Linked DNA regions of Homo sapiens. The protein of the gene in region 1 interacts with the protein of each later gene in a pairwise test. Each region holds a gene or a part of one and is shown on either strand. Other genes may lie near its edges.

Region 1 (15,525 bases):
CCCTGGTAACCATGATTCTACTTTCTGTTTCTAAGAGTTTGACTACTTTAGATACTTCATATAAATGGAATCACTTTTTGTGATTTGCAACTGGCTGATTCCACTTAGCACAAGGTCCTCAAGGTTCATCCATGTTGTAGTTTATGAAGGAATTTTCTTCTTTTTTAAACGCTAATCATCCATTACATGTGTATACCACATTTTCTTTATCCATTCATCCATTCTAGTGTCTTTGTTTTTGACTTATGGGTTTCCGGAAAAGACTGATGAGAAAATATATTTTCTATTAACCCAAGAGAAAAAGTGATCTTGCATGCTGGAATTTTTAAGGATGGTTTAGGTTCTAGAGACTCAAAGAGAAATCGTAGAAAATGCAAAGGGAAATTAGATTAAAAAAAAAAACAGTGACCACATAAAGAATATCTCCCATTATATCCTCTCTGAGCACGAGAAACTATTAAACTACTTTCAACCGAGCAATAAGGGCCCATAATAAAAAGCTGTTGCCCTAGTTTTTTTACTGCCCTACTCAATACCCCCTCTTTCATACCCTCAAAATAGCTCAGCTGAGAAAAGAAACAGTCCAATTTTACAGAAGGGAAAAATAAACAGATAAAAGGATAAGCAAGAACTCTTTTCAACACAGAGTAAGGTACTGGTTAGAATTTTAATACTGTATGGAGGAGTCTAACCCCAGAGTAATCCCTGGCCCATTTTGGTGTTAGTAAGTGGATCCCAGTGTTCGTTTGTATCGAGGTAGTTTGAAGCACGTTAGGGATATTCATAGCCTTTACTTCAGTGCATTATTATGAAAGAATCTAAAGTATCTTTGCATTTACGTGATTATGTTTTCAGTTGGTCTGCGGAGCTATTATTAAATATGTGGCCATAACGTGTACAGAAAAATCTCCAAGTAAACTGGCATTTAACTTACCAACACGTTAAACCCCCATACATAACTTCCTTTAAAAACGATCACACTAAAAATCCCAGCATTTAAAATCCTGAAGTTTTCGGTAAAATACGCTAAATATAGCTTGAAATAGTAAATAATCCCCCCAAGGCGACATTAGCAAATTAATTGGTGTGTGAACAAAGAACTCTTTCTGCAGCAGCATGAATGTTGCCTTTATTTTTTCTCACAAGTATGATTTTAGAAAACAGCTGTAGCGCATGTTGACAAATGAGAAAGCGGCAGACGTGGTAAAGCACTTTCGGTCAAGGCCAAGAGGGGGGGAAATCGGGTTGCTGGGGCGGCACTCGGGCTGGAATCCCTAGCTTCCCTAACCTCCTTTTTCCAGTCCGGAGTGAGCGGGGGCCCCATCGCCCCACCCCCCTTTCCTGGCTCTGGTTACGGCCTTGCGAGTTGAACAAACTTGCTGCAGGCGGATTGGCGGCTGGGAGCTCTCGGGCTGGGGCGTTGTATTTATTAATTTATATTCCGCGGCGCCCCGCGCGGGCGGCTCCTTTGTGTCCAGCCGCCGCCACCGGAGCTCCCGGGGCCTCCGCGGGGAGCGCGTCCCCCGCATCCGCCCGACCCCCGGGGCTGGCACGTGCTGCGCCCGGTCCGCTGAGGGGGCGGAGGCCCCGATCTCCCCGACCCCCCTTCTCTGCTTAGAGGAGGAGGAGCAGCGGCAGCGGCAGCAGGAGGCGACAGCTGCCAGCCGAGGAGGCGCGGCGGAGAGGGGACTGCGGTCAGCTGCGTCCACTTGGGGCTGTGCGGCGGTCCCGCGCCCGGCGATGTTCCCGGGCACTCCCTGAGTAGCGGCAGCTTATCCCCCGCCCGCTAGCCCGCCCTGGTCCCCGGCTCGCTCGCTGGCTGGCGCGGCCCCGGCCCCGCTCTGCGTCGGCCCCGCCGCGGTGGAGGCGCGCGAGGGGGACGCGGCCGGGGATGAGCGGATTGCGGGTGAACTCGCCGCCCGGGGGCCCCGCGAAGCCGTGAGCCGCTGCTTTTCTCCGAGTCGCCGCCCTGCCCTTGGATTTGAGATCATGTACGTACGCGCCGCCGTCCTGCCATTGTCTCTCTCCAGCGCGTGCCGTGCGCCCCAGGGACAGGGGCTGGTGCCCATCCTCGCCGCGCGCTGTCCCCCGCACTTCCTGTTCCGAGGAGAGACCCGCGCGCTGACCGTGCTTCCCTTCTCCCCTCGCCCCCTCTGTCCGTGCAGGTCCATCCACATCGTGGCGCTGGGGAACGAGGGGGACACATTCCACCAGGACAACCGGCCGTCGGGGCTTATCCGCACTTACCTGGGGAGAAGCCCTCTGGTCTCCGGGGACGAGAGCAGCTTGTTGCTGAACGCGGCCAGCACGGTCGCGCGTCCGGTGTTCACCGAGTATCAGGCCAGTGCGTTTGGGAATGTCAAGCTGGTGGTCCACGACTGTCCCGTCTGGGTAAGGAAGAGCAGCTGCTCCGCGCTGAGGCTGAAGAAGCTTTTCTTTCCTTTTTTTTCCCCCTCCCCCTTCTGCCCACTTCCGTGAGTGTGGAGTGTCCGCGTTACATGGGTCAAATTTTTAAACATTTTTGAGAAAATCTTTGGTCCTTTGTTTCACTGGGCAGGGAACAGCCCTGTCAGAGAACACTCTTAGGAAGATAGAAGGCCCCAGTGGGAATGTGGAGCACTTACTGGTACACTTCACGACTGTGGGTTGACCCTTGGTAGGCAGCAGACAGTTGAATGTGCCAACTCCAAGGGACGGGGTCACTAAGTTTCATCAGCAAAAAGCAGTGTTTTTTTATGTCTACCCTATGGGTGATAGTGTAATATTGGTGTTCTAAAAATACATCCCTCTCAAAGCTCAACACAGGCAAAAATACTTTTCACTGGGACAGTTCAGAAATAGTTCCTCTGGAAAGCGGAGGAAAAGACAGGGACTGGGAGTTAATTTTAAATGACTCATTTATAGCACTATTAATTGATCTCTGAAAACTTAATTTTAATAATGCAAATACTCTTTATGTGTTAGCCATTTGTCTTAGTGACTCATAAATCAGAAATAACATTACTAATGTTGTTTGGAAAACTTTTAAAAAATTAAAATTTGTAATAATTGAACAAAATAGTAGTGAAGTGGATAAATTATAGTCCGATTCTTGAGTGTTTGATTAAGGGAGAAAGGAACTTACTTTCTGACACATATAAATATTTTCAGCATACAATAACATTATGTTTGAATGTTTTCCTTTAGTCTTATTTGAAAATCTTTGATTCTTTACTGATATTGGAGTTACGTATGTTTCAGCTAAATGTTACATTTAATAACAGAAGAAAGTTTAGTGCCTGAAAAGATACAAATTATCGTTGTGTAAGATTTCACATTTAAACAGCAATATTAAAAAAACTGAATTAGGACTATAGGAAAGTATCACGCCATTCTAAAAAATGTGTAGAATATACTTGGAAAAATTTCTTATGCAAAGTTCCACATAACAGAACGAAAAGATCACTCGCTCGTGTAAGTTTTCAGTTAAAGAAGAAAGTTATGTTAATTTGGTAAAATAAAAAACAGGCCTTTTCAATTAAGAGATACTATTAAACCCCTAGTTATGATAGTGATGATGCTGTTCATAAGAAGTATTGATGGAGAACTTACTGGTCAGAGTCTATGCAGGCAAATGAAACACTTCTTTTACTTGGGATCTTTCGTTGTGAAAGATCTTACAGCCTAAAAACATGACGGTTCAACATGCAGTTGAATAAATGTTTAGCGAATCGAGTAAATGTAGGGAAAATAAAACTAGCTACATTAGGATGTTAGGATTGCTTTCCCGTATTTAATTTGAGCTGTTAACACTTTCCTGTTTATACTGTTAATTTTGCAAACAGTAATGCTTGTGATCCCATACACTTTGTCTAGTAAAATGAAATCTTCCAAATGGAGAAAATAAACCTCTATAGTACGGATTTTTGCCATATGCTGGTTGTTATGGTTTATCTTGCTAATAACTTTTTGTTTGGTTAGACTCTGGCCCTATTTAAGGCACCAAGTTTGTAACCAGGTACAATTTTCTAGGTTATAATGATCTTCAGATATGAGATTCCATTTCTAGAGTTGCTCTTTATAAGGTGCTTTTCTTCACTTGGTGGTAAGTAAAGCCCATCAGAGATTCTAAAGCTGATTGCATTAATCAACTGTTATTTGACGTATGTACGGAACCAGAATATTAAATATAGCAGAGCAGATAGAGCATAGCCTTTGATATCAAAAGGATCTGATTTCAGATTCCCACATTGCCATTTCAGGTCTGTGTGTCCTTGTTAAATCACTTACCTTCTCTCAGCCTTATTTTCCCTATCTATAAAATAATATGCCTCCTAAAGCTGTGCTGAGAAGTGAATGAGAAACTAGCACGTGTCAAGTTCTAAGTATAGAGGCTGGCATTTAGTAGATGCTCTATAAGTGGTAGCTAATATAAAAATAAAGTGTTACAACTTTAGTTATGTATCACTTATATTAATACTAAGCAAAAGTAAGATTTTCACAGGTCATTCAAGATTTATACAACTACAGTACCAGTACACTGGGGCAGCGATGTTCATACTTCATACATGCAGCCCCACAATCAAGTAAAATAAAATAGTTTCACTGTAGAAATTCAGATTTTTTTTTTTAAAAGATGAGTTCAATTCTCCAAATGTGGCTCCAAGCCTTGTGTTGCATAACCCCGAGAGGAAACCCTGGAACTGATTTACAAGGGGTGGGAGAATTTGATTTTCTTCATAATTCTAGAAATCTTTGGAGTATTTTCTCTTTGGCATAGTTTGAGAAGAGATGTGTTGTTGTTGCCTTGAAGTTGAAATGAGGTAGCTGTGTTTCCCTTCCCTAGTTCTCTTCTATAGATCCTTAGCCTTACCCTGGATCCTTGCCTTATATACTTGGCACTTTTAAAACAAATGTGCTGCAGATTCATTAGATGTAGCACATTATTTAGTGTGTCTTTCTCTCTCTTTCCCATCCGTTTTTTTGGTGTGGTACATTATTATTTCATTTCACGTTTCTATATCTTTTACTGTTTATTAAAAATATTCCACAAAAAGCAGTGAGGTAGTTTAATAGATTTACAGTTTTCTTTGCAGGGTTTGAAGCTCTGATTTGGATTACAAATTAAGTATTTATAGTCTTCACATCCTCAATCCCACAGAGTTAAGGATGCCCAGACCCATTTTTTCATAACATTTTCCCTTAAAGGTCCTCCCCTTCCCCGGATACCTCTCCAGTAACTCTGGAATTTTGAACTATTTGGAATTCAAAAAGCAGCTACTTTTGATTTATTCTCTCAGAGTTAAATGGCTGCTTAATATTGGCCCCACTTTTGTTTAGTTTTTTATCTCATTTGTCTTCCTTGTTATACTTACGCACTCTGTTATACTTGGATACTTTGAACTTGAACGCTGTAACAGATGCAGTTGGAACTGAATGAGCTGTGTGGTTTGGGATTTGGCAGTTTGAGAGTTCTGCTGGGAAGCTTTCCCATTTTTCTGCACTGTGTCCCACTTCCCTTCTGCCCCCTTGCACCCTCTACCAAGTTCAACCCTTTGCCTTTGTTGTTTATAGTCCATATTTTGCCTTTTTTTTTTTTTTTTGGTTCTTTTACCTCCCTTCAAAAATACTGTACACATCCCAGTTTTGATAGGGTATTCATGACAAAAAATTCTGCAGTTCTTGTTACTCTGAGTGTACTTGTGGGAAATGAGTGGCTGGGAGGGTATGGGGAACTGGGGGAGGCACTGATGAGAAGAAGCTCTCTCTTCAGAAGGGCATTGCTGTGTGATACTCCTCCAGAATGTGCCATCGTAGGATAAAAGCTCTGTCACATAGACCTTGGTTGGCTGATTCAAACACTGTTAACCCTGTTTTAGACTCATATTTCAAAGTTTGAACTTTCTTAGCTCAACAGCTTTTGGACCTGTTAGTCAGACCTAGCTATTTTCTTAATCTAGCTTTATTACATCCTAGAAATGTGTACCAAAGGCCACATAAAAAGACAAATGATTAATAGTTAACTAGAATGTGAGAAGAAAACTACTTGTACATTATTTGGTAGTGGAGTTAAGATACCTAAAGATATTTTCCTTACATCACTATTCATACAGAAACTGAAAAATTATATGTAAAATATCAACCCAGGCCAGGCACGGTGGCTCATGCCTGTAATCCTCACACTTTGGGAGACCGAAGTGGGCAGACTGCCTGAGCTCAGAAGCTGGAGACCAACCTGAGCATTGTGGTTGAAACCCCATCTCTGCTAAAGTACAAAAAAATTAGCCGGAATGGTGGTACACACCTGTAGTCCCAGCTACTCGGGAGGCTGAGGCACAGGAATTGCTTGAACTTGGGAGGTGGAGGCTGCAGTGAGCCGAGATCGCACCACTGGACTCCATGCTGGTCGACAGAAAAAAAATCAAAACATTATATTTTTAAGGAATAGTGTTTGTAATAAATTACTTACTGGCCCCAGTTCTAAATAAATATAAATGTTATTAGCTGTAGCACAAAAGTAAATATTTCAGAACTAGAAGAGTTTATCCTGAATTTTTAATTTATGTAGGCAAAATACGTGAATTGAAAATATATTCCTTACCATGTTAACACCTTGTAATACACAGTATCTCTTTTTTTAGTAAAGGAATTTCTCCCTCACCCCACATTCATACTCTTTATATACAGTACTGTCCAAAGGATGGATAAAGTTGAAAAGTATACATGAATTTTGAAAATATGAATAAAGTATATGGAACTTCACAGAATTTAAAATGTATTGCAGTTCAGAACACTGAAAATCCTGCAGTGTCTAACTGGGTCAGAGGAAAACCTTTGAAGCTTCGTTACTCATACTGTTGCTCTTCCATCTAATGCCATAATGTTACACTTTTGAATTTATGAGGTGATAAAAATATAGTGTAATTTTAAAACAAAGGGCTTATTTTTAAGTGCAAATAGTGAAAGAGGTTGCTTATTTTATCTGACTCTCAAGAATTCTCAGGTTCTCCTGTTTAACCATTACATAATTGTCCAGGCTACATGAGTAAGTAAACATTTTTAAAAAGAGAGTTGGCAGACTGCAACACTTTTAATTTCAAGTAGTTACTTATTTTAAAATAATTTTTTATGAATTCCAAAAATTAATGTCATAAATTATTTCAGGATTGATTGGACGATAAGTAGACTAAAGATTGCTATTTGCATTTTGGTTTAGGACATATTTGACAGTGATTGGTACACTTCTCGAAATCTAATTGGGGGCGCTGACATCATTGTGATCAAATACAACGTTAATGACAAGTTTTCATTCCATGAAGTAAAGGATAATTATATTCCAGTGATAAAAAGAGCATTAAATTCAGTTCCAGTAATTATTGCTGCTGTTGGTACCAGACAAAATGGTAAGTATTTAATATTCTTTTTTGTAGTGAGCATGCAAATATTATATATACTTTAAATAGTGCTAAGTTTATTAATGGATAATAGGGTTTGTTTTTGAAAACCAAAATGACTTTGGTTCAATGCCAGCTGCTATCGCTTCATCATTTGATACGATAAAAAAACAACAAAGGAGAGGATCATGAACTTCTGCTGTGATTCCACTGGGTGCAAATCTGTCTTCTAAATGGCTCTTCTACAGTAGTGATGGAAGTCAGCAATTGTATTATTTTGACATATGAGAGGTATTAGGCTGATGCTGAGCCCTAGAAAACTCTTTTTGATGATCTGAAGGTCTACCTGATTGGGAAGGATAGATTGTTCACATGAAGATGTGGGCTTGGGAGCAGGATTTTTAGGTAGATAACAATGAGTGAGCTGGAAACACTGACAGTGCTGCCTAAAAGAAAGGATTGCTTATTCCATGGCTGATAGATTCATTGGGTTCAGGCTGCTTCAGCCATTGCTGCTGTGCATATTATTGTCAGATATCTTAGGGCCAACTCAGGATTCAGTTTGATTTGGTGGTATTTTACAGATCTTCTTAGTGGTATTTCCTAGTAAAGCTATTTTTAAAATTTTATTTTTACACATTATTCTAAAAACTTTTAAATTGAGGTATTGCGAAGTAAAGGACATAAGGTTTACTGATCTTAGAGTGCAGCTAAATGCATTTTTACCTATGTATACAGCCACGCAACCCACATACATCAAGGTATAGAACATTTGCAGCACTTGAGAAGGCTCCCTCATGCTCTTCCCAGTTAATAACGCTCCTCCTCAGAGGTAACTGCTATTCTGACTTCTAACAACACAGATTAGTTTTACCTATTTCTGAACTTCATACAAATGAAATTATATGGTATGTAGTAGTGCCTTAGGTTAGGCTAATTTCAGTTAGCATAATACTTTTGAGATTTGTCCATGTTGTGTTTATCTGTAGTTTGTTCTTTTTATTACTATATATTAGTCCATTGTATGAATATGCCATAATTTATTTATCCATTCTTCTTTTGAGGATGCTTAGGTCGTTACCCAGGAGCGGGATTGTTGGGTCAGAGGGCAGGTATATATATAGCATTAGTAGATACAAGTAAGGCAGGCATGACCTACCCGTGACCCCATATCCCCTCTACTTCCCTATCTTTCTTTTTATTTCTGGTCATGATTCATAAAAGAGTTATCTGCACTTCCTGAGTCCATTTCCTATTCATTCTTCAGTCCGCTACAGTCTGACTTTGACTTTCACAAGTGCACCAAGTTTGTTCTCCCTCAGGGTCTCCAGTTGCTGTGGTCTGAATTTGTTCCCCAAAGTTCATGTGATGGCACAGTGTTGGGCAGTGAGACTTTAGGAGGTAATTAGGGCAAGAGGACTCTGCCCTCGTAAATGGATTGATGCTATTATCTTTAAAGTGGGTTAATTATCATGGGAGTGGGCTCCTGATAAAAGGATGAGTTTGGCCCCCTTCTGCCCTCTGTCTTGTGAGCTCTCTTGTACTTCTGCCTTCCACCATGGGACGATGCAGCAGGAAGGTCTCACCAGATGCTAGCACCTTGATATTGGACATCTCAGCCTCCAGAACTGTGAGAAATAAATTTCTTTTCTTTATAAATTACCCAGTCTGTGGTGTTCCATTATAGAAGCACAAAACGGACTAAGACACCACTTATGTCCTCGTTAGCCAAATTTAATACACTTTAATAACAATTATCTCTTATCGAAGAGATAAGAGATAATAATACTTATCTCTTGTTGAAATTATTGAAACATACCTCTCCCTCCATTTAATAAAGCTACTGGTTCTTTTAACTATCTGTCTCCTTTGCCTTTCTCCCCTCCTCCCACACACACACAGCAGAATTGTTTCCCAGGGTTCCGTCCTTTGACCTCACCTGTTCTTACTCTTCAGCCAAACCATTAACCTGCTAATCTGTTGTCCTGGCTTCTCCTATATAAACACCGATAACTGTTCAGTCTGTCTCTCTGGCTTTAGTCTTGCTCCTGGCACATATCACCATAGACATCATCTTCCTCTGGCCAAATTTCCTGTCTTGGTGAATGATGCCAGTCCTATCCATTCACCCAAACAAGAATCATCCTAGACCCAGCCCGATTCCGCATATCCAGTTGATTAAGAAGCCCTTTTGCTTTTACATTTTAAACAAATCTCAAACTCATTACTTTCTCTTCATCTCCATTGGATTTCGCATTCTAGTCATTTAGTTATTTGTCATGGTGGCCTTCTTTTTGGTCTCTTTAAGGGATGGTTTCAGATTTTGTAGGGCCTCAAACTTACACAATTTGGGAGGTCCTTCATAAGGAAAAAAACCCACAAAATAACAGATACATATATGTACAAAAGTAAATATTTAGAATGATAAGTGAAAGCACAACAAATTACAACTAAAAAGTTGTCAAATACTACAGACATTTTTAAATGTATGTATATATTTTTGAGACAGGGTCTTGCTCTGTTGCCCAGGCTGGAGTGCAGTGGCATGATCATAGCTCACTGCAACCTGGACCTCCTGGGCTTGAACGATGCCCCCCACCTCAGCCTCCTGAGTAGCAAGGACTACAGGCACGTGCCACCACACCCAGCCAGTTTTTTTATAGAAACGAAATTCTGCCGTGTTGCTCAGGCTGGTCTCCATCTCCTAGACTCAAGCCATCTGCCCCCCTCAGTCTCCCAAAGTGCTGGGGTTACAGGCGTGAGCCACCACACCTGGCAACAGATCTTTTTAACAGCCTGATACTTCTTCAACTTTTCTTATGTTTTTTGGGTGACCATAGTCTTTGGTCATCTCTTCATATGATAACCACTGATAGGTTATGGCTGTGTCCCCACACAAATCTCACGTTGAATTGTCATAATCCCCATGTGTCATGGGAGGGACCTGGTGGGAGGTGGTTGAATCATGGGAGCGGGTTTTTCCTGTGCTATTCTCATGATAGTGAGTAAGTCTCATGAGATCTGATGGTTTTATAAAAGGGCAGTTCTGGTCATGCTCTCTTGCCTGCTGCCATGTAAGATGTAACTTTGCTCCTCCTCCACCTTCCATCATGATCATGAGGCCTCCCCAGCCATGTGGAACTATGAGTCCATTAAACTTCCTTTTCTTTATAAATTACCCAGTCTCAGGTATGTCTTTGTTAGCAGCATGAGAACAGACTAATACAACCACTTTATGATATTTTCTATAGAGATGAGAATGATAATCAGTGGAATCTGATTATCAGTTATCACACACTCAACTATACATGGAAGTGACTATAAACCACAAATAGTTCATTAAGCCTAAGGTTAAATTCCCTTTGGCAACATCCCCCAAATGCCCACAGTTACTCCAGAGCTGCCTGATACAAGATGAAGTGATTTGGAGTGGAAAGAGACAATAGTCTTGACTAAATATCTTAGTTTGCAAATTTTACAAAAGAATATGACCATGTGAAGATATATTGCTCAGGTTCTTCCTGGGGCTTGGAAAGGATCCACAAGAAAAGAGTCTTGAAGCTTGAGCTTCATCAGCTTTATGGTAAATTGGCCTCTGGTGTGCTATTCCTGGTTTGTCTCTTTCTGAAATAAATTCTCTCAGAATAGTTATCCTAGAATACAAGTCAGATCATGGCGCTCAATGCTTTGAATTCTTTGAGAACTTTCTTCTTTGCCTCTTATTTTGCAAAATTTCAAACCTAAGAAAGTTGACAAGAATAAGACATTGAACCCTAGATTTTATAAACACACACACACACACTTTTTTTTGGCTGAACTATTTGAGAGTGAATTGTAAACATTATGAGATTTCTTTATTCCTAATTACTTTAGCATGTATCATCTAAGAACAAGGCCGTTATCTTATTAAGCCTAATACAATCATCAATCAAGAAATCTAACATACTATTACATTTTTACTATTATTTAAGATATAATCTGGCCAGGCGCAGTGGCTCACGCCTGTAATCCCAGCACTTTGGGAGGCCGACGCGGGTGGATCATGAGGTCAGGAGATCGAGACCATCCTGGCTAACACGGTGAAACCCGGTCTCTACTAAAAATATGAAAAATTAGCCAGGCGTGGTGGCAGGTGCCTGTAGTCCCAGCTATTTAGGAAGCTGAAGCAGGAGAATGGCACGAACCCAGGAGGCGGAGGTTACAGTGAACCGAGATCGCACCACTGCACTCCAGCCTGGACGACAGAGCGAGACTCTGACTAAAAAAAAAAAAAGAAAAGAAAAAAAAAAGAGATAGAATCCATATTTTCATTTCCCCGGTTGTTTCCTTATAATGTGCTTTATAGCTGGGGTTTATCATTGTTGTTGTCTTTTAACCAATCCAGGATGCAATTAAATATTACACATTACATTTAGTTGTTATATCTCTCAATTCTCTTTTTTTTTTCTTTCTTTCTGTTTTTTTTTTTTTTTTTTTTTAGAAACAGGATCTTGCTGTGTTGCCTAGGCTGGTCTGAACTCGGGCCTAAGCAATCCTCCTGCCACAGGCTCCCAAGTAGCTAGGATTATAGGCATGCATGACCACATCTGCCTTCTAATCTCTTTTAATCTGGAGCAGTACGCCCAGTGGGTTTGGGGGGAGGGACCGTGTCTGTCATAATATGAACATTTTTAATGAGCCCAGGCCCTTTAGTTTGCATAATTCCTTCATTTATGATAAATGTGCTTGCAAAATAGTGATGTTTCTATCGTTCTTCCTATACTTATTGGTTGATATTCTTCTGTAAATGGAGCTTTCCTTTTTCTCTGCTCCCAAATTTTTCTCTTAGAATTATTATGATTCATGGATTTCTATTTTAAATTCAGTATTTTGTGATCTGTTCTGATTATTCTTTTGGATGCTCACATTGCTCCATATTTGCTTGCAGGGAGTCATTTCAAGCTACCTCTAATCAGTTTTTAGCCCCTTCCTTATTTTCTGGCACAAGATATTCCAGGCTCAGACTTTGCCTATCCCAGTCCTAGAATCAGCCATTTCTTCAGGAACTCTGGTTCCTTCTAGGGGGCAATGATATTTAGAAACCAAGGTCTGGGCTCTAGGATGCTCATGACTTTAGGTGTCTTTACTTCTGCGCCCTTTAATTGGCTAGAGCTAGGGATTATACTTTTTATTTAAATTATGGGCACTGATGCCCTTATTTCAATCTGGTATTCGTATCTCATTTCAATAACTTTTTCTTGTAAAATCTTTACCTGAAATACAAGATCCTTCATGAGGTAGCCTCTGACTGTTTCTATAATCTTGCAGGGCACAATCCCCTGCCTTATGTATCAGTCACACTGAACTACTTGAAAAACTTAATGTCTTTCTTTAGGTCTAGGAAAGTCTTAACTGTGTGACTTCAGATATCACCATCCATCCATTTTCTCTATTCTCTTCTTTTGGGACTTTTGTTAGACTGATGTTGGAACTTCTGGATCTCTTCTCTGATTATTTTATCTTTCTTTTATATTTCTTATTGCTTTATTTCTTTGTGTTGCATTATGGGAGAGTTCCTTGGCCTTTTCTTCTGGTTCACACATTAGTTCTGCTGGGTCTGTTCTGCTATTCTGCCTTATTAAATTTTTTATTTCAAAAGCTTTTCATACCAGATCTCTAATGGCTGTTTTCATAAGTTCTTGTTCCAATCTTAAGGATGCAAACTTTTATTTAAAAAAACTCTCAGACCAGGCGCAGTGGCTCATGCCTGTAATCCCAGCACTTCGGGAGGCCGAGGCGGGCGGATCATGAGGTCAGGAGATCAAGACCATCCTGGCTAACACAGTGAAACCCTGTCTCTACTAAAAGTACAAAAATTAGCCAGGCATGCTGGCGGGCGCCTGTAGTCCCAGCTACTCGGGAGGCTGAGGCAGGAGAATGGCGTGAACCTGGGAGGCGGAGGTTGCTGTGAGCCAAGATTGCGCCACTACACTCCAGCCTGGGGGACAGAGCGAGACTCCATCTCAAAAAATAAAAAAATAAAAAATAAATAAAAAAAACTCTCAGGATAATTAATGATGCTTAATAATTCAGTTTTGATTTTTCTATTAAGTTTGGTTTTAAGATGGCATTATAAGTCGTTCTACTTGATGAGATTTTATTTTATGGTATGGATACTTCTTAAACATTGGGGAATTCTTAATTTGCCTACTTTTGCAGTTGACTTTCCTTGTTGGATTGATGCCTTCCTCTTTCTCTGCCCAGCTGCTGTCTGGGGATGGGGGTGTAAGTAGGAAAACACCCAGGATCAACAGGCTTGGCTGCTTCCACTGGGGTTCTCCCACTCATCCCCAGTCATTTGCCTTTGGGCCGCCTCCTCCTTGTTGCTCCCTGCATTGTTGAGCAGGGAGCACTCTAGGTGTGGCTGCAGTGTGAGCCTGTACTCAGAGCTTCAGGAGGCCTCTTCGGTCCTGTACTGCCTGCCTTCATTCTCTCAAGCACTCCTAGTTTCTGGGCTGATGAGGTTTCCCCTCTAGTTTTTGAGTGTTGCTGTGTATTCAGTCCTTCCTGCCTCCCTCCCTGTCTTTCTCCCTCCCTCTCTTTCTCCTTCCCCCTTCCTTCTTTCCTCCCCTCTTCCCTCCTTCCCTCCCTTCTTCTCCTCCCCCCCATTTTTTTTTTTTTTTGAGACAGCATGTCACTCTGTTGCCCAGGCTGGAGTGCAGTGGCACAGTCTCAGCTCATGGCAACCTCCACCTCAGGTTCAAGTGATTCTCCTGCCTCAGCCTCCTAAGTAGCTGCAATTATAGGTATGAACCACCATGCCTGGGTAATTTTTGTATTTTTAGTAGAGGTGGAGTTTCATCATAGTGGCCAGGCTGGTCTCGAACTCCTGACCTCAAGTTATCCACCTGCCTCAGCCTCCCAAAGTGCTGGGATTACAGGCATGAGACAATGCACCTGGCCCCTCTCCCCCTTCCTTCTTTCCTTCCTTCCTCCCTCCCTCTCTCCTTCCCTCTTCTCTCCTTCCCTCTCTTCTTTCTCTCCTCCCCCCTTCCCCCTTTATTTCATCATCTCTGTGATTTGGCAGGGAGGGGAGATCACAGTGTGGGCTTAGCTTTCCATCTTGAAACTGGAAATGAATGTTTTCCTTTCTTCTCACATCCAGTCCCCTGTACATGCTGTATTCTTAACTGTAGTGCCCCTCTACACAGCCCCTATCATATCAGCATAGCAAATTCACACTTATCTTTTAAATCATTACACTTTCTGTGAAGCCTTCCGTAATCCCCCCAGACAGTTAACTTTCTCTCCTCTGTTGTGTGGTGGCTTTGGACATCTTTATTTCAGTGCTTATTATGTTATATTATAACTGTTTGCAGTCATGTCTATCTTCTCTCAGTTGACTATGAGTTTTTATATCATTGCATTTTTATATCCCTGGCACTTGATGTGTGGTAGGTACTCACTAAACGTTTATTCAATGAGTGAATGGTTTTATGGATGATCTGAGTAAGTGAAAAAATCAATTTCACTAACAAGATGAAATTAATTTGCCATACAAGATGTAATTACAAAGTAATTACAAAGCTAAATCTGGCTATTCAACTCGAGGACCTATATTGGCTTCCCCCCATCCATCCCTTGGAATACATGAAACTGTGTTGGGTGCTCTCCTGGTAATTCCCTTGGAACTCTTTTTAACTTTTTGTTTGTTTGTTTGTTTTTTGTTTTAAATAGAGATGGGGCTGGCCACGGTGACTCACGCCTGTAATCCCAGCACTTTGGGTGACTGAGGTGGGAGGATCACTTGCGATCAGGAGTTCAGGACCAGCCTGGGCAACATGGTGAAACCCCATCTCTAGGAAAAATACAAAAATTTGCCAGGTGTGGTGATGCACACCAGTAGTTCCAGCCACTAGGTAGGCTGAGGTGGGAGGATCACTTGAGCCTGGGGGAGGCAGAGGTTGAAGTGAGCAGAGATCATGCCACTGCACTCCAGCCTGGGCGACAGAGTGAGACCCTGTCTCAAAATAAATAAATAAATACATAAAAATTTAAAAAAATTAAAAAAATGGAGATGGGATCTCGCTATGTCAACCAAGCTGGCCCCCAACTCCTAGGTTCAAGGGATCCTCCCACCTCAGCCTTCCAAGTAGCTGGAATTAAGCACACG
Region 2 (15,525 bases), on another chromosome or scaffold:
GCCCTTACCAGTGTGTCGCCACAAGATGGGCTTTCCCCACAGGTCCAACCATGGCTCCTCCCCTGTACAGACTTCCAACAGTGCCACTCTCATCCAGTGCCTAGCCCTCCCCAGTTGCTCTTCCCCTATCGATCCCTGCAGTACACATCCCTTTCAAGACTTGCCTCCGAGCAATCTGCACTACTGATTTTGAGCATCATTCCACTCCATGGCAACTGAACTGATGCGAATTTGCTTTTCTGCCTCTCTTCTCTCCATCATCATACTAAAATGTACTATTTTCAAAGGTTCAACTTCTTTTTCTTCATTGTACTGCCTCCTCCCCCACCTCCACTCCCACCTCTAAGCATTCCCAACTAAATACAATAATTTGAATAAGGCTTTGTGGGTACTGCAGATTCAGAAGGTTTCAAGTGTGTTAAAGAACAAAGAGCTGGGGAGTATTGGTTATGGAAATTCCTAATTCACCTTACTCTCCAAGACTGAGACCCTGATGGGAAAAAAAAAAGTTAGTAAACTATCCTTAGAGCATGCTCATTAATGAGTTTGTGGGGGTAGGAAAGGGGAATTGCGTCTCTCGAATATTTTACTCAGTTAGAGTCAGATCTTTCTCTGAATGGGATCAAAATCAGAATAAGCGTTTTGGTCCAAATGCTCGCCCGACAGAGGACCCATAAGGGATGCATACGTCATTTGACTTTCCTATTTACGTATTTAGTGTTATCAAAGAATTCATTTGCCTGCTTAATGTTACCTTGTTTAAAGGTTTGGATTAAATCCGGCATATTCTGGGGGAGGAAAAAATGATTTCATTTGCTTTTACACTGTGCTAGTTCTTTTTAATTTAAGTATGTACTAAAGGACATGACATTCATTTTCAAACAATGATAAATGATTGTGGAGAGGCCAGCACCCACCGACAACATCAACTGGATATCATTATTCTGCTCTTGTTTTGGGTAGGAATGGGGAAATGTATATACTTATTTTTAAAATGTGAGAGTAGGGGGAGGAAAACTGGAGCATTTCCCTTGACTTTCAACAGGTGGAATTCCCATTACTCCCCATCCAGAAAATGATCGAGTCAAGTTCATAACTTCTGCTCTTTAGTTACCTTATAAATAATAGTATTTTGGCATCTTACAGAACTATGGATCTATTGTACCTTGGCATCAATTCAGAGGCATTAATTCTGGGCACCTACCTAATCATTTAATTGGTAAACAAATATTTATTATCTCCATGGAGGATCCTGGTGCTGCACACTGAAGGGGCTTCAAAGATGTATACAGTGAGCTTACTATCTAGGAATTTAAAATTGATCATGTAAGAAAGACAGGAAAAGTTTGTTAACAAAATAAGTCAGTATAATGACATTATTTCAACTGTAAACAATGAGATCCTGAGCTTGCATGTTAATTTGTAAACTCCCTGAGGGCAAGACCTTGCCTTAAACATTTATTAATTCCCAACAGTATCTACATCCAATGGATGTTTGAGTGATGAAGCTTTGCAAAGTAGATTGAGTGGGGAGACACCAGAAGCAGGGAGAGAAGAACTTTCACAATAGATTAGATGTGAGAAATTGTGGGCCAAAATGAGGATGGTAGCACAGGACTAGAAAATGATACTTCAAGGGAAAATCAGCAGGATTGAATGAAGGCAAGGAGACAAATCTAAACTGTATTCATTTTTACTTCTAGAAAATAAATGGGAGTTGGAGACAGCAGAGGAGAGTGGAGGGTTTCCTTAGTAAGGACACAACACACAATAGGCACTGTAGTGTTTTCTCAAATATCAGTAGCAAGATTGGACCAGAAGACCCTGAAGGTCCCTTCAATGCTGAGATTCTGTGCCATATGCAGATGTTCAAGCTTGTTGAGGAACAAGGCATTCTCAAATATGGAAGAAAGAGAAAAGGAAGAATTCTTATACTTTCACTAGCAGGCCCTTTCTGAGAAGGGTTAATACTGAGCCACAAGGCCCCCACCAGTGCATGAAAGGAGGTGGAGGAGCCAGAGGAATAAAAATCTCAAACCAAATTTTTCAAAAAATGCTTACAAATCTTTGCAAACTTCATAAGCTTTTCATTCTCCCCCAAAATCCTGTTAAGTAGGGCAGGTATTATCTGCTCTATTTTTATGTAAGAAGATACTGAAACAGAAAGATTAAATGACCTGCCCAAGTTCATAAAATAAATGAATGGTGTAACAGTGATGAAGACCCTGGTGTCCTGATTACTGCCAGCTAGCTCAGTGCTCTTGACACTGAACCACATTGCTTTTCCTCTTTTTCCCTTGGCATAGAGCCTATAGGCCCAGAAGTTATGTGTGCACATAACCAAATAGGGAATGCACAAGCAACTGCAGCATTATCTCAGACAGTTATTAATACATCATCATTATTCCTGGAGCTGAGCATTTGGTTTCCATATTCACTCAGTCCTTGACCTGTCTATTGAGTTTATCTGCAACTGGGAGAATAGGGTCAGTGAGTCTTTTAATGATGTGAACGCCTGTTTGCTAGGAACTCAAGGAAGCTTGTGTGGCCTGGACGCTTAATACTAGCCATCAGAATCATGCCCAAGTTTGTACTTCTGTTGCTTTTCAAAATGAGAGTTCAAGAGTTTTGCTCTGTAAAATTATCCTACAGACCAGTATAAAAAAATAAAAAAGTGTGCTAACACTTGTTTCATCTCCATTTAAAGAAATGTTTGTTACTTGAGCTAATTCCAAAGACAGCAATTTGGGAGCAGGAAAAAGAGGACAAAAATTAGGAATTGTAGGAAACTTGAGAATTCTGTAGAGTGTATATAAACCAAGAAGGAGGATAAAGCCTATCCATTTAGGAGATATTATTTAAATTCATAATTACTGATTTAGATATCTAATGAATCCTTATTATAAGTTTTATCTATATTTAGAAAATAACATGTGATTATTAAGCAGCAGATTTTTTTTTAAAGCTTCGTTCTTCCTCAGTAAGAAATAACACTACACAGATCTAGGCACTGTTTTTCTTCTTAAACCAGTACTCTTGATGCTGCTTAAATAAGATTCTTGCCATAATTAATTATAATATTAGATGAATGTATATTTAAATTTAATAACACCAGCTAAATATTAAAACTGGTGTTTAAGACAGATGAACTGCCAGGTACAGCGGCTCACGCCTGTGAACCCAGCACTTTGGGAACATGAGGTGGGCAGATCGTTTGAACCCAGGAGTTTGAAACCAACCTGGGCAACATGGTGAAACCCCATCTCTACAAAAACTACAAAACTTAGCCGGGCATGGTGGTGCATGCCCGTAGTCCCAGCTACTCAGAAGGCTGAGGTGGGAAGATTACTTGAGCCCAGGAGGTCGAGGCTGCAGTGAGCCATGACTGCACCACTGCACTCCAGCCTGGGTGACAGAATGAGACCTTGTCTCAAATTTAAAAAATAAATAAAGAAAAGAAAAATGACCTAAACTAATTAATAAAATAATTAGCCAAGATAATATACTTTATTGTAAACAGGAAGCCCACAAACACAATTTTTTTCTGCTCTCTAATTATGTGGAATCAATTGCAGAGACAACCTTGAGACAGACTGGTGAGTGCACTAACAACTTTCTTGGAGATGGGAACGTTGGTAGGTATAAAAGGAAGAAGTTTCATCTCCGACTTAGGATTTCAGCATATCTTAGATTGCTCTGTACTTTCCTTTTCCTGAATGTCATCTATTGTGAATATCATCTTTCTTTAATTTGCTTTTACTTTGAATGGAGAATTCAATTGAGAGACAATATAAAATGTAAAAAATTATATAAATTACAAATTAGGATAAGTTAAAGTTCTTGGAATAAAATTATTTTGCTTATGTTAAGCATAGGTAGCATTTTGAACTTTTATTTTTGAAAAGCACCCTCTGTAGGTTACTTGAGGTTGCTGTGGGTTCTTTTTTTTTTTCTGACTTGAATATATTTTTATATAGAGCCTTAACGTTATTTTATTATAGATTTTTTTAAAATAATGTTTTCTATTCTGTTTTATAGCACCCTAAAAAGAAAGAATAAAACAACAACAGGAAAAAAAGGAAAATATTTAAATTGTGACAAAAACCCACTGGGTAGGTATTTCAAGGGGGCACACTGTGGATTTGGGATATTTTAATATTTGATCTCTTAAAAATGAATATTTAGAAAAATATATAGCTAGTACATAGGCATTCCAAAATCATTTTAAGGGCTACTAAATTTTGTAAAATTATATTCAAATGTGTGTGCTTCCAGAAACTGTTTTGCATGCACTCCTTCGATTAGTGATTCGTTTTCATCCCTTTGGGTCTATTGTATAAATATCATCCAATTAACCTCATCACCGTTGAGTTCCCACAATAGACCTAGTGGGAAAGTACCTAACAGAATATAGGAAAAGGTAGTATTTGTTCAGTAAGCATTTGATCTTTTTATTTTAAGACACATTCTAGGTGTTCCATGTGTAGACATGTTGTGGAGGTAACAAGTAGGGTACTGTATAAATATTAGCACTTTAAATTTTGCAGTATGTTTTCAAATGTTGCTATTATGGAATTAAAACCTGAATCCAAAAACTAATAAGCTATTCAAGATTTCCTTCCTTCATGACAGCTGTTATATTGATATCAGTCAATTGTCATCAACTTAAATGCCATTGTTCCATGAAGAAAAAAATATAGAAGATCCTTACTTGAGAGGGTGTTCCTATCAATGCAAGTATAATGGGGTAAATGCCTGAAGAAACGTAACCTTGTTCTCTCTTTCAAATTCTGGGGTGCAGTCTAATTCTGGCCCAGACCTCTACCGACAGAATCAAGAATCCAGTTTATGTAGCTTTCTCTTCTCAGTAATTTTTGTATCCATCAGGAGCAGACTTCAAACCCCAAGTCAATTTCATACTATTTGTCTATTGTTTGGAACTGTCCAAACCGGAAGCTAAAGTTGTCACACATTTGAGTGGCATTCCTGTTCTAGGCTTCCTCTCCTAGAATTGGGTCAGAACTGAACCAAATTACAGGACCATCTGCTAGTCCATTTACCCATGGCACTCAGCCATTTTCCTGGCACAACAAAAGACCTCAGAAAAACAAGACCTATTTTTCCCCTTATGCAAAATTAGTGTTATTTCTTCTGCTGTACTACATCAATTAATGAGCATAAATCAGAGAAGTTGAATGAGAAGGCCTTATAATTCAGAGAAATTTGCTATGAAGTTGATTTCAGTTTCAGGTTTAACTGTTTTCCCTCCTACTTTTCCTTTTATTTTCAGGTTCTCTTGGTTACAAACTCCTTCCCTTCTGGTGCTGCAAAAATGAGTGGGAAATCCCTGCTCTTAAAGGTCATTCTCTTGGGTGATGGTGGAGTTGGGAAAAGTTCGCTTATGAACCGTTACGTAACCAACAAATTTGACTCCCAGGCTTTTCACACCATAGGGGTAGAGTTCTTAAATCGAGATCTGGAGGTAGATGGACGCTTTGTAACCCTCCAGATCTGGGACACTGCAGGGCAGGAACGTTTCAAGAGCCTTAGGACACCCTTCTACAGGGGAGCAGACTGCTGCCTCTTGACCTTCAGCGTGGATGATCGGCAGAGCTTCGAGAATCTTGGTAACTGGCAGAAAGAATTTATTTACTATGCGGATGTGAAGGACCCTGAGCATTTCCCCTTTGTAGTTCTGGGTAACAAGGTAGACAAAGAGGATAGGCAAGTGACTACTGAGGAGGCACAAACCTGGTGCATGGAGAATGGGGATTACCCTTATTTAGAAACTAGTGCCAAAGATGATACTAATGTGACAGTGGCCTTTGAAGAAGCTGTCAGGCAGGTGCTGGCTGTAGAGGAACAGCTGGAGCATTGCATGTTGGGTCACACCATTGACTTGAACAGTGGCTCCAAAGCAGGGTCTTCGTGCTGTTAAAGATAGGGAGCCTTTTAAAAATGTGCCCCAAATTGATCAGTCAGTAGTGTAAGAATAACTGTGCCCCTCTAAGAGTGCACACACACGCACACAAGAGGGTAAGAGACAAGGTTCTGATTGTGAAACAGAGCCTTTCAAATTGAAGTGTAGATTGATTTAAAAAAATTAAAAATTAAAAAAAATGAAGCTCTATCAAGCCAAGTGTATTTTGCGTGATTTCTGCTATTTCCCCTTCTTGTGTGTCTCAGGACATATCAGAAAATTTTAGTCCTGAGACAGTTAAATATTTTTTAAATCACAGTTTAAACCTAGAACCCAGCTGCATGAAGGAGTTAAAGAGCTACAACTATTTCTTAAAGTGTTCCATTAATCAACTAACAAATGTCACTATCAGACTCTTGCCAAGCAGTTTCTGACATTTCTGCCAAAGGGGAAAAAAATCAGACTTTGAGCTGTATTACAATAAAAATAATAATGCAAATAAGGATTCCTAGGCTTGAATTAAAGAAGTTGTAATGATTAGGAGTGCAAAAGTATAATGATATACACTGACTTGTTTAAATCCTTATGTATGGTTCGCTCCCATCTGAGCTTTTCAAAAAATCCCATCTCAATAAGAGATACTCTAATGACACTGGCAATTGATTATACTTCTTGTGTTTGAAGTCATAGGATACTAGTGAATGGATTATGCTTAAATATGCCAACCACCTTTGCAAATAAATGGTTGGTCTGCTTTTAATTCCTAAGTCTACTTTTGCTGCATAGAGATGTTGCTTCTCTGACAACCTCTTACCAATTTAGCAATGCTGCTTAGTATATGAATTTGGATGCAGTGCTCTCTGCTCATCATTTAGATGGTCCTTTGATCCAACATGCTGGGCTCATGGAGAAGGCTTCATAAAAGATTGGGGGATAATGAACTTTTCTCACAAGGCTCCTTAACTCAAATATTTATTGCAGAAGAAGGAACTGGTTTCTTATATGTTGCACTGTATGTTCAACTAGCCTAATTAGGACATTGAAAGTGACAGAAGAGCAGATCTTAACCCAGTGTTAGAATGAATTTCCCATAAACAGAGTTGTCCAACAGTGGAATGGACTGCCTTAATAGTGAGCTCCCTGCCTCTGAAAATATTCACTGGATGACCATCTGTTAGAATACCATAAAAAGATTTTCTGTGCTGGCTACATGTTCAATATAAAGTCCTTTCTGGCTCTAAGTTCTATGAATATATAAACTACATCAGTGCCATGCTGTGGTTAGATTTATCTGATGATAACAGCTAAGACTATGGAGAGGGACTTTAAAAATTCTCAAACCATTCTGTGATCAATCTTTAACAGCAACTACATAGCTCTTCCTTTTGCTTTTGCACTGTGGCAGGAAAAATTCTTGAGCTCTGAGTAATCTTTATGTGACTGATAAAAAACATCTTAAAGCTCCCATGTTAAAATATAAAAATGGTTTGACAATTTTTGATTACCATGACTGTCAGTTATATACTATATTATGAATATGCAGTGTGGTTCTTGTTGGTTGATCTGTTTACCCTGCATAGATTTTAATCTGTACTTTAAAACATCTATGATAAAAATAGTGACAGACAGAAATTACCCCAAAAAGAGACCTAGGCCAGGAAGGGGGTGGGAGCTTTCATAGGAATACAGCCTAGAACTCTCCATTGTAGCCACGTATGGAATCAGCCTTACTTACATGTAGGACCTTTGTGCTTTAAGAGCTCTGGGACATATTGGCCAAATAGAAAAGAAGAGGACAGTATTTCAACTCAGTCATACTCAATATTTCCAATTAAGATATAATCCTGACACCATTGTTCAATTAACTTTGACGCCAGAAGTCAAAGCCAGAACTGGGACCCCACAGCTCTTAAGTACTGGTCCCTATCCTGCCTATGCCTATAGCCAGCCACACTGGTTTCCAAGTTCTGTGATCATTTTGCTACAATCATGTTAGGGTGAAAATCTGTACGTCAGAACTGTTAAATGCTAATTATTTTTAAGTGCATGAGACCTGGGGCCTTCTCTTTCTACTTGCACTCTGCTTATACTAGTTTCTATTTGTAGATCTCAGGCCTTCATCATAAAGACCTCTATCAACTCACAAAAGTATTTGTCTCTATTAGAGTGGCATGTGGTCATTTGAGTAAAAAAAAAAAAATTACATGGGTATCGGATTCATAGGCATCCTGTCCATCTAAGACAAGTGTTAATTTTATTGGCCCATCAGCTGGAGCCCCTTTCCTCTTAGCCATACCATTGTTTTCTACCAAATTACCACTCAATATCTTAATGAAAGCACTCAACATTAAGTGACATAAACAGTGGCATTTGGGTAAGCAACACTCAGTGGGGTGCTGACATACAGTTTGGGTAAGATTAAAAAACACCAAAGGCTGAAATCTGTGAGTACCAAGAACTGTGCATATAGGTTTAGAAATTGACTGTGTACCCTAGAATGTGCAGTGTAATATTTTCAATAGGTGTTTTTTTAAAGAACACTAGATTTTTGGAATAATATATTTCTAATTAGGACTATACTGTTTTTCAATGGTCTGTTAAAACATCATACAGAATATTTATTTAGTTTATTGTCATGTATTGGCTAACTTTCAGGGGCCTCAGATTCCATATGTCTTCAGTGGATTGATGAATATCAGGTTAATTTGTGCCTGCCCCAGCCATCTCTACTTTATTCTGAGGTATTCCACAATCCTCTTGTTGCAGGTGCTGCTAAAAAAAACTCAAAATTGTGTATCAAATATTTTCTTTCAACTGTAAAAAATCATCTGTGTTAAAGTGAATAAAAAGTGCATTTTGAATAACCAGCACACAATGTTTGTGTTTATTCCCTCCCTTTCTCTTTTTGAGAAATTGGTGGGTGTGATGGACAGTACTTATTAATCAAGTCACTCTTTCAGGCTGCACTGGATGTGGCCTCTGGATCATGTTTCATGTGGTACTCCAAGCAGCCACTATCTAGTGATCAGATATTTCTATACTGATTGTGAAGCAAACTCTAAAGATTGGGGCAGGGAGGTCCTTTTTATTTTATACCACTTTCTTTCTATTTATTTAGTTATTAGAGACAGGGTCCCTCCATTGCTCAGGCTGGAGTGCAGTGGCGCAATCATGGCTCATAGCAGCCTCAAACTCATGGGTTTAACCACTTTCTAATGCATGACGTGTATTGGGACTGGAAATTGAATCTTAACTTTCCACTTTATTTCTTTATTATAATTTAAAACCATTACTTAATGGATACAATGTACACTATTCTGGTGATGGGTACACTAAAAGCCCAGATTTCAATCTGCAATATACCCATATAACAAAACTGCACTTGTGCCCCCTAAATTTATACAAATAAAAGAAAAAATATTATAATAAACAACGTTGCATAAAAAATAAGATAAATGTTAAACCATCAAAAAATATAAACAGAGTAGACATATTCCCTTTATTTTCCTGACTGGTGAATTGTCCAGACCTTAGGAAAACATGAAAATATAGGTGAAACAAATAAGAAAAGCAAAGAATAATTTTGTTAAATATTCTGTTCTCTTGCCTCTCACATATTGGATTTTAAAGATACATTAGCACCCAATGGCTTGAATATACATAATGGCGGTTTTAAAATTATGGACACAAATCTTTCCACAGCATATATAGTTTCATTACATTGATTCCATCTGCCACAGATTTCACTCTCTTCTCTCTGTCTACTTTTGCCTGTTGCAACTTTGGGCAGTTGAAATTGGGGGTGGGGAATTTGTTGGGAAACAGATTTTTTTTTTTTTTTTTTGCCACATGTACCATTTCCATCTCTGAGGATTATAATTTAACACATTATCAGACCATGCTTCAAATGCAGCACCCCAAATCATTTTGACTAGTCTATAATGATGCAACTTTTAGAATATAGAAAGTCATAGATTTATAAGCCACTTAATAAGGATTTGCTCATTTGTAACTGATTATTTTTTTTTTTGAGACAGGGTCTCGCTCTTTTGCCCAGGCTAGAGTGTAGTGGCCTGATCTTGGCTCACTGCAACCTCCACCTCCTGAACTTAAGCAGTCCTTCCACCTCAGCCTCCTGAGTAGCTGGGATTACAGGCATGCACCAGCATGCCCAGCTAACTTTGTGTGTGTGTGTGTGTGTGTGTGTGTGTGTATGTGTGTGTGTGTGTGTGTGTGTGTGTGTGTTTGAGACAGGGTCTTGCTCTGTTGCCCAGGCTGGAGTGCAGTGGCCTGATCTTGGCTAACTGCAACCTCGGCCTCCCGGACTCAAGCGATTCTCATGCCTCAGCCTCCCTAATAGCTGGGATTACAGGCGCCCGCCACCACACCTGGCTAATTTTTGTATTTGTTGTAGAGACAGGGCTTCACCATGTTGGCCAGGCTGGTCTTGAACTCCTGGCCTCAAGTGATCCACCCACCTGGCCTCCCAAAGTTCTGGGATTACAGGTGTGAGCCAATGCACCGGGGCCCATAACTGATATTTTAAAAACAGAATGCCAACTTCCTGTCTTTAATGTTTTTCTGCCTCATTCATAACCCAGTGGGAAATCTCCTCATGATGTCTTAAGAAACAGTACGGTCTCATTTTTTGGAAATGGTTTGGCGATAGTCCTTCCAGAAACAGGAAGGTGTGGAATACATAATTTGTCTTCCATCTTGTAACTGTAGTTTTAAAACACACTGGAAAATCGAGGTATCAATTTGAGTAATTTCAAGCTGGGAGGTGGGATGGACATCTCTACTTTCATTTGAATTACCCAAAGTAGATCTTGCAGCAATTTTTTTTCCTCAGTGATCTAGATAATCATTTCACTTTTTTTCTCTCTTTGCTGTGGAAATGTAAAATTTACTACAGTGCAGTGTTTTTCTTACACTTGATTTTAGGGCAGATAAACTGTAATATACTGTCTTAGCCCATTTGGGCTGCCCTAACAAAATACCATAAGCTTGGTAGGCTATAAACTACAGAATTTCATTTCTCAGCTCTGGAGGCTAGGAAGTCCAAAATCAAGGCATCCGCACATTCAGGGTCTGGTGAGGTCTTGATTTCTGGTTCACAGATGGCACCTTCCAGCTCTGTGGAAGGGGGAAGGGGTTTCTCCTGGGCCTCTTTTATAAGGACACTAATCCCATTTATGAGGGCTTCACCCTTGTGACCTAATCACCTTCCAAAGGCCCCATCTCCTTATAATGCCATAACCTTGGGGGGTTAGGATTTCAACCTATGAATTTTGGAGGGGGACAAAAAGATTCAGAGCATAGCATACACCTTTTGATAAAACGTTAATGTGCATGATTTGGGATATTCACTAATGTTTTCTTTTTCCAAACTGGTCATTTTAATTTCCTCAAGTTTCCATCACCAAAAGAGCTCTCATTCTTTACTACTTTCTCTTTAAGAGAAGGAAGGGATAATGACAAAAGCTAGGCATGTTTATGGAATAAAGGAAAAATTATTAAATGCCTTCTTACTGATATGCTTGCCAAAACTGGTGAGCAAGGATCTCTTATTCTGCTAGTGATGGTAGTGGTAATAATGTGTGAAAGGGTTTTTTTTTAAGGGGGCAAGAAGTTACTTAATATTTTCCCAGTGAAAATAAGCATCTTCACAGCTCAAGATGTGGCGTCGTCACCTGTAGTCATATAGAAACTGCTGCAGTGATCTTTGTGTCTTCATAAATCTCTTTGCCTTCTCCAAGGAAACACAGAGAATGATGATTCAGTTATATATAAATGTCTTTTTAAACAGTGGGTTTTGTGTGTGCAAGCATGTGTATTTTTAAGTAATCTGTCAGTTCCTTTCGTGCTGTATGAACTATGGGTAAATGTATAATGGTCTCACTATAACACTCCTGAATTTTAATCAGACCTGCCAAGCTGTGCCACATCTAGTTAACTGATTGATAAAAAGAATTGGGAAATGCTGCCTTAATGAAAGAAATAGCTCTTAATTCAACATTAGCTATATTGATTAGAGTAAAAATACAAATCACACTTTCCTGTGGTGCATTCATGAGGAAGCAAGAAACAGGCTCATATCATCTCTTTTCTCTTACGTTGTTCCTGGCTGCCTTAGAAACGACATATCCAAGGGTGTGTCCTGTAATATATTGCTCAACATAGAGTCTGTTAATAGATGAACAAGTGCCAGTAGCCTCTGAGTTCTCTCTTTTTCCATTTGTTCCCTGCTAGAAAACTTAGAGTGACCGATAAATGCTTTAAAATGTTCTTTTTTTCTGATTACAAAAGCCATACACATCCACCGTAGAAAAATGAAGTAATGAAAGAAATAGAAAAGCAAGATTTAAAAAATTAAAGTCATCTGTAATGTAATCCTATTAACCTGAGATAAGCAGATTTTAACATTTTAGTGTAGATTTTAATATATTTATGTATTTTTAAAATTGATTTGATACTGCACACACTGTAATCTTTTTTACTTAATATATATCTATAGTACTTAACTTTTCTCTAAGACATATATTCTTCTAAGATTATATTTGCTGTTTGCATAATATTGTATTGAAGGGTTTACCACAATTACCCATATTGCTAAACTTTTAATAAAACACTTATTGCTAGACATTTAGGTTGTTTTACAGCTGCCTTCTTTTCATAAAATAAAGCATCAGTGAAGTTCCTTAATATCAATCTTAACTCTCACCTCTGTTTATTTCCTACTAGTAAAATTTCTAGGTCAAAGATTATGAATTTTTTATTAATTTTAATATATACTGGCAAATTGGCCTCTAGAAACTTATCCCAAATGACATCAACACCAGTAGAATAAGAGGAAGACTATCTTTCCAACACCCAAACGTATGGACTATTATCTTCCTTTTTAACCCCATATGTGCAGTCTGATGGGTGAAAAAATGATCTCATGCTGTCATTTACATTTATTTAATTTTTTGAGAGTAATTGTTTATACATTCATTGGCCATTTTTATTTTTCCTTGAGTGAATGGACCCTTATGGGGGTTGGGGAACATTCATTTTTGTTTCTTATTGATTCCAAGGAAATCTTTTTTTATATTGTGGGTATTAACCTTTGATCTTATCCACATTGCTAGTTTTCTGCAATCCCCTCCCATAGATCTTGCCTTTTAATTTTGTTTATGGTATTTTAAAAATATACTGCCATATTATAGAAAAGGTTATGTTCTGATAAATTAGAAAACTGGTGGGTTGGGGAAAGAGAGGTGCTTATTTGATTTGTCCTTTGTTTCTGATTATACTCGAGACTACTTTTGTTTAGAAAGGTTATGAATCTAAGCTTTGGTCACCATGATAAAAGAATTGCTAGAAATAAAAAATATTCATTCATCCAGATGCTTTAATTGCATGATGTCAAATGACTGGTTTGAATTGAGTCTACTGCTGTAATAATCAGATTATTCTGAAGCCTTGTGTTAAATATAAATGCAGAGATAGAAACAGTTCCACTTTCAACCACAAGGGGGCAATAAAGACCGGTTAGTGTTCCGCCATAGACTAAACTTATATATATGTGTGCATATATATAGTATATATAGAGAGAGTATATATATATATTATATGTATACTTTAATTTCTGGGTTACATGTGCAGAACGTGCACATTTGTAACATAGGTATACACGTGCCATGGTGGTTTGCTGCACCCTTCATCCCATCACCTACATTAGGTAGTTCTCCTAATGTTATCCCTCCCCTAGCCCCCAACCCTTGACAGGCCACAGTGTGTGATGTTCCCCTCCCTGTGTCCACGTGTTCTTATTGTTCGACTCCCACTTATGAGTAAGAACATGCGGCGTTTGGTTTTCTGATCTTGTGATAGTTTGCTGAGAATGATAGTTTCCAGCTTCATCCATGTCCCACAAGAGGACACAAACTCATCCTTTTTCATGGCTGCATAGTATTCCATGGTGTATATGTGCCACATCTTCTTAATCCAGTCTATCATTGATGGACATTTGGGTTGGTTCCAAGTCTTTTCTACTGTGAATAGTGCCACAATAATCATACGTGTACATGTGTCTTTATAACAGAATGATTTATAATCCTTTGGGTACATGTCCTGTAATAGAATTGCTGGGTCAAAAGGTATTTCTAGTTCTAGATCCTTGAGGAATTGCCACACCATCTTCCACAATGGTTGAACTAATTTATACTCCCACCAACAGTGTAAAAGCGTTTCTATTTTTCCACAACCTTTCCAGCATCTGTTGTTTCCTAACTTTGTAATGATTGCCATTCTAACTGGCTTGAGAAGGTATCTCATTGTGGTTTTGATTTGCATTTCTCTAATGACCAGTGATGATGAGCATTTTTATATGTATGTTGGCTGAATAAATGTCTTCTTTTGAGAAGTGTCTGTTCATATCCTTCACCCACTTTTTGATGGGGTTGTTTGATTTTTTCTTGTAAATTTGTTTAAATTCTGTATAGATTCTGGATATTAGCCCTTTGTCAGATGGATAGATTGCAAAAATTTTCTCCCATTCTGTAGGTTGCCTGTTCACTCTGATAATAGTTTATTTTTCTGTGCAGAAGCTCTTTAGTTTAATTAGATCCCATTTGTCAATTTTGGCTTTTGTTGCCATTGCTTTTGGTGTTTTAGACTTGAAGTCTTTGCCCATGCCTATGTCCTGAATGGTATTGCTCAGGTTTTTTTCTAGGATGTTTATGGTCCTAGGTCTTACGTTTAAGACTTTAATCCATCTTGAATTAATTTTTGTATAAGGTGTAAGGAAGGGGTCTAGTTTCAGCTTTCCACATATGGCTAGCCAGTTTTCCCAGCACCATTTATTAAATAGGGAATCCTTTCCCCATTTCTTATTTTTGTCAGGTTTGCCAAAGATCAGATGGTGGTAGATGTGTGGTGTTATTTCTGAGACCTCTGTTCTGTTCCATTGGTCTATATATCTGTTTTGGTACCGGTACCATGCTGTTTTGGTTACTGTAGTCTTGTAGTAAAGTTTGAAGTCAGGTAGCTTGATGCCTGCAGCTTTGTTCGTCTTGCCCAGGATTGTCTTGGCTATGCGAGCTCTTTTTTGGTTCCATATGAAGTATAAAGTAGTTTTTTCCAACTCTGTGAAGAAAGTCATTGATAGCTTGATGGGGATAGCATCGAATCTATAAATTACTTTGGGCGGTAAGACCATTTTCATGATATTGATTCTTCATATCCATGTGCGTGGAATGTTTTTCCATTTGTTTGTGTCCTCTCTTATTTCCTTGAGCAGTGGTTTGTAGTTCTTGAAGGGGTCCTTCACATCCTGTGTAAGTTGTATTCCTAGGCACTTTATTCTCTTTGTAGCAATGGTGAATGGGAGTTCACTCATAGTTTGGCTCTCTGTTTGTCTGTTATTGGTGTATAGGAATGCTTGTGATTTTTGCACATTGATTTTGTATCCTTAGACTTTGCTGAAGTTGCTCATCAGCTTGAGAAGATTTTGGGCTGAGACAATGGTGTTTTCTAAATATACAATCATGGCATCTGCAAACAGAGACAATTTGACTTCCTCTCTTCCTATTTGAATACCCTGTATTGCTTTTTCTTGC

Evidence for each region.
Region 2: the proteins of RHOBTB3 (region 1) and RAB9B interact in a two-hybrid assay, tested with the Homo sapiens proteins (one study listed by IntAct).

What each region holds. Positions count from the first base shown.
Region 1 is NC_000005.10:95,729,694-95,745,218, forward strand, and holds the start of RHOBTB3 (rho-related BTB domain-containing protein 3), read left to right. Parts: upstream 1-1,642; 5' UTR 1,643-1,989; coding exon 1,990-1,991; intron 1,992-1,999; exon of another isoform or gene 2,000-2,165; coding exon 2,166-2,391; exon of another isoform or gene 2,392-2,409; intron 2,410-7,195; coding exon 7,196-7,382; intron 7,383-15,525. UniProt on the Homo sapiens protein: Rab9-regulated ATPase required for endosome to Golgi transport. Involved in transport vesicle docking at the Golgi complex, possibly by participating in release M6PRBP1/TIP47 from vesicles to permit their efficient docking and fusion at the Golgi.
Region 2 is NC_000023.11:103,815,592-103,831,116, reverse strand, and holds the end of RAB9B (ras-related protein Rab-9B), read left to right. Parts: intron 1-4,038; 5' UTR 4,039-4,112; intron 4,113-5,290; 5' UTR 5,291-5,332; coding exon 5,333-5,938; 3' UTR 5,939-8,790; downstream 8,791-15,525. UniProt on the Homo sapiens protein: The small GTPases Rab are key regulators of intracellular membrane trafficking, from the formation of transport vesicles to their fusion with membranes.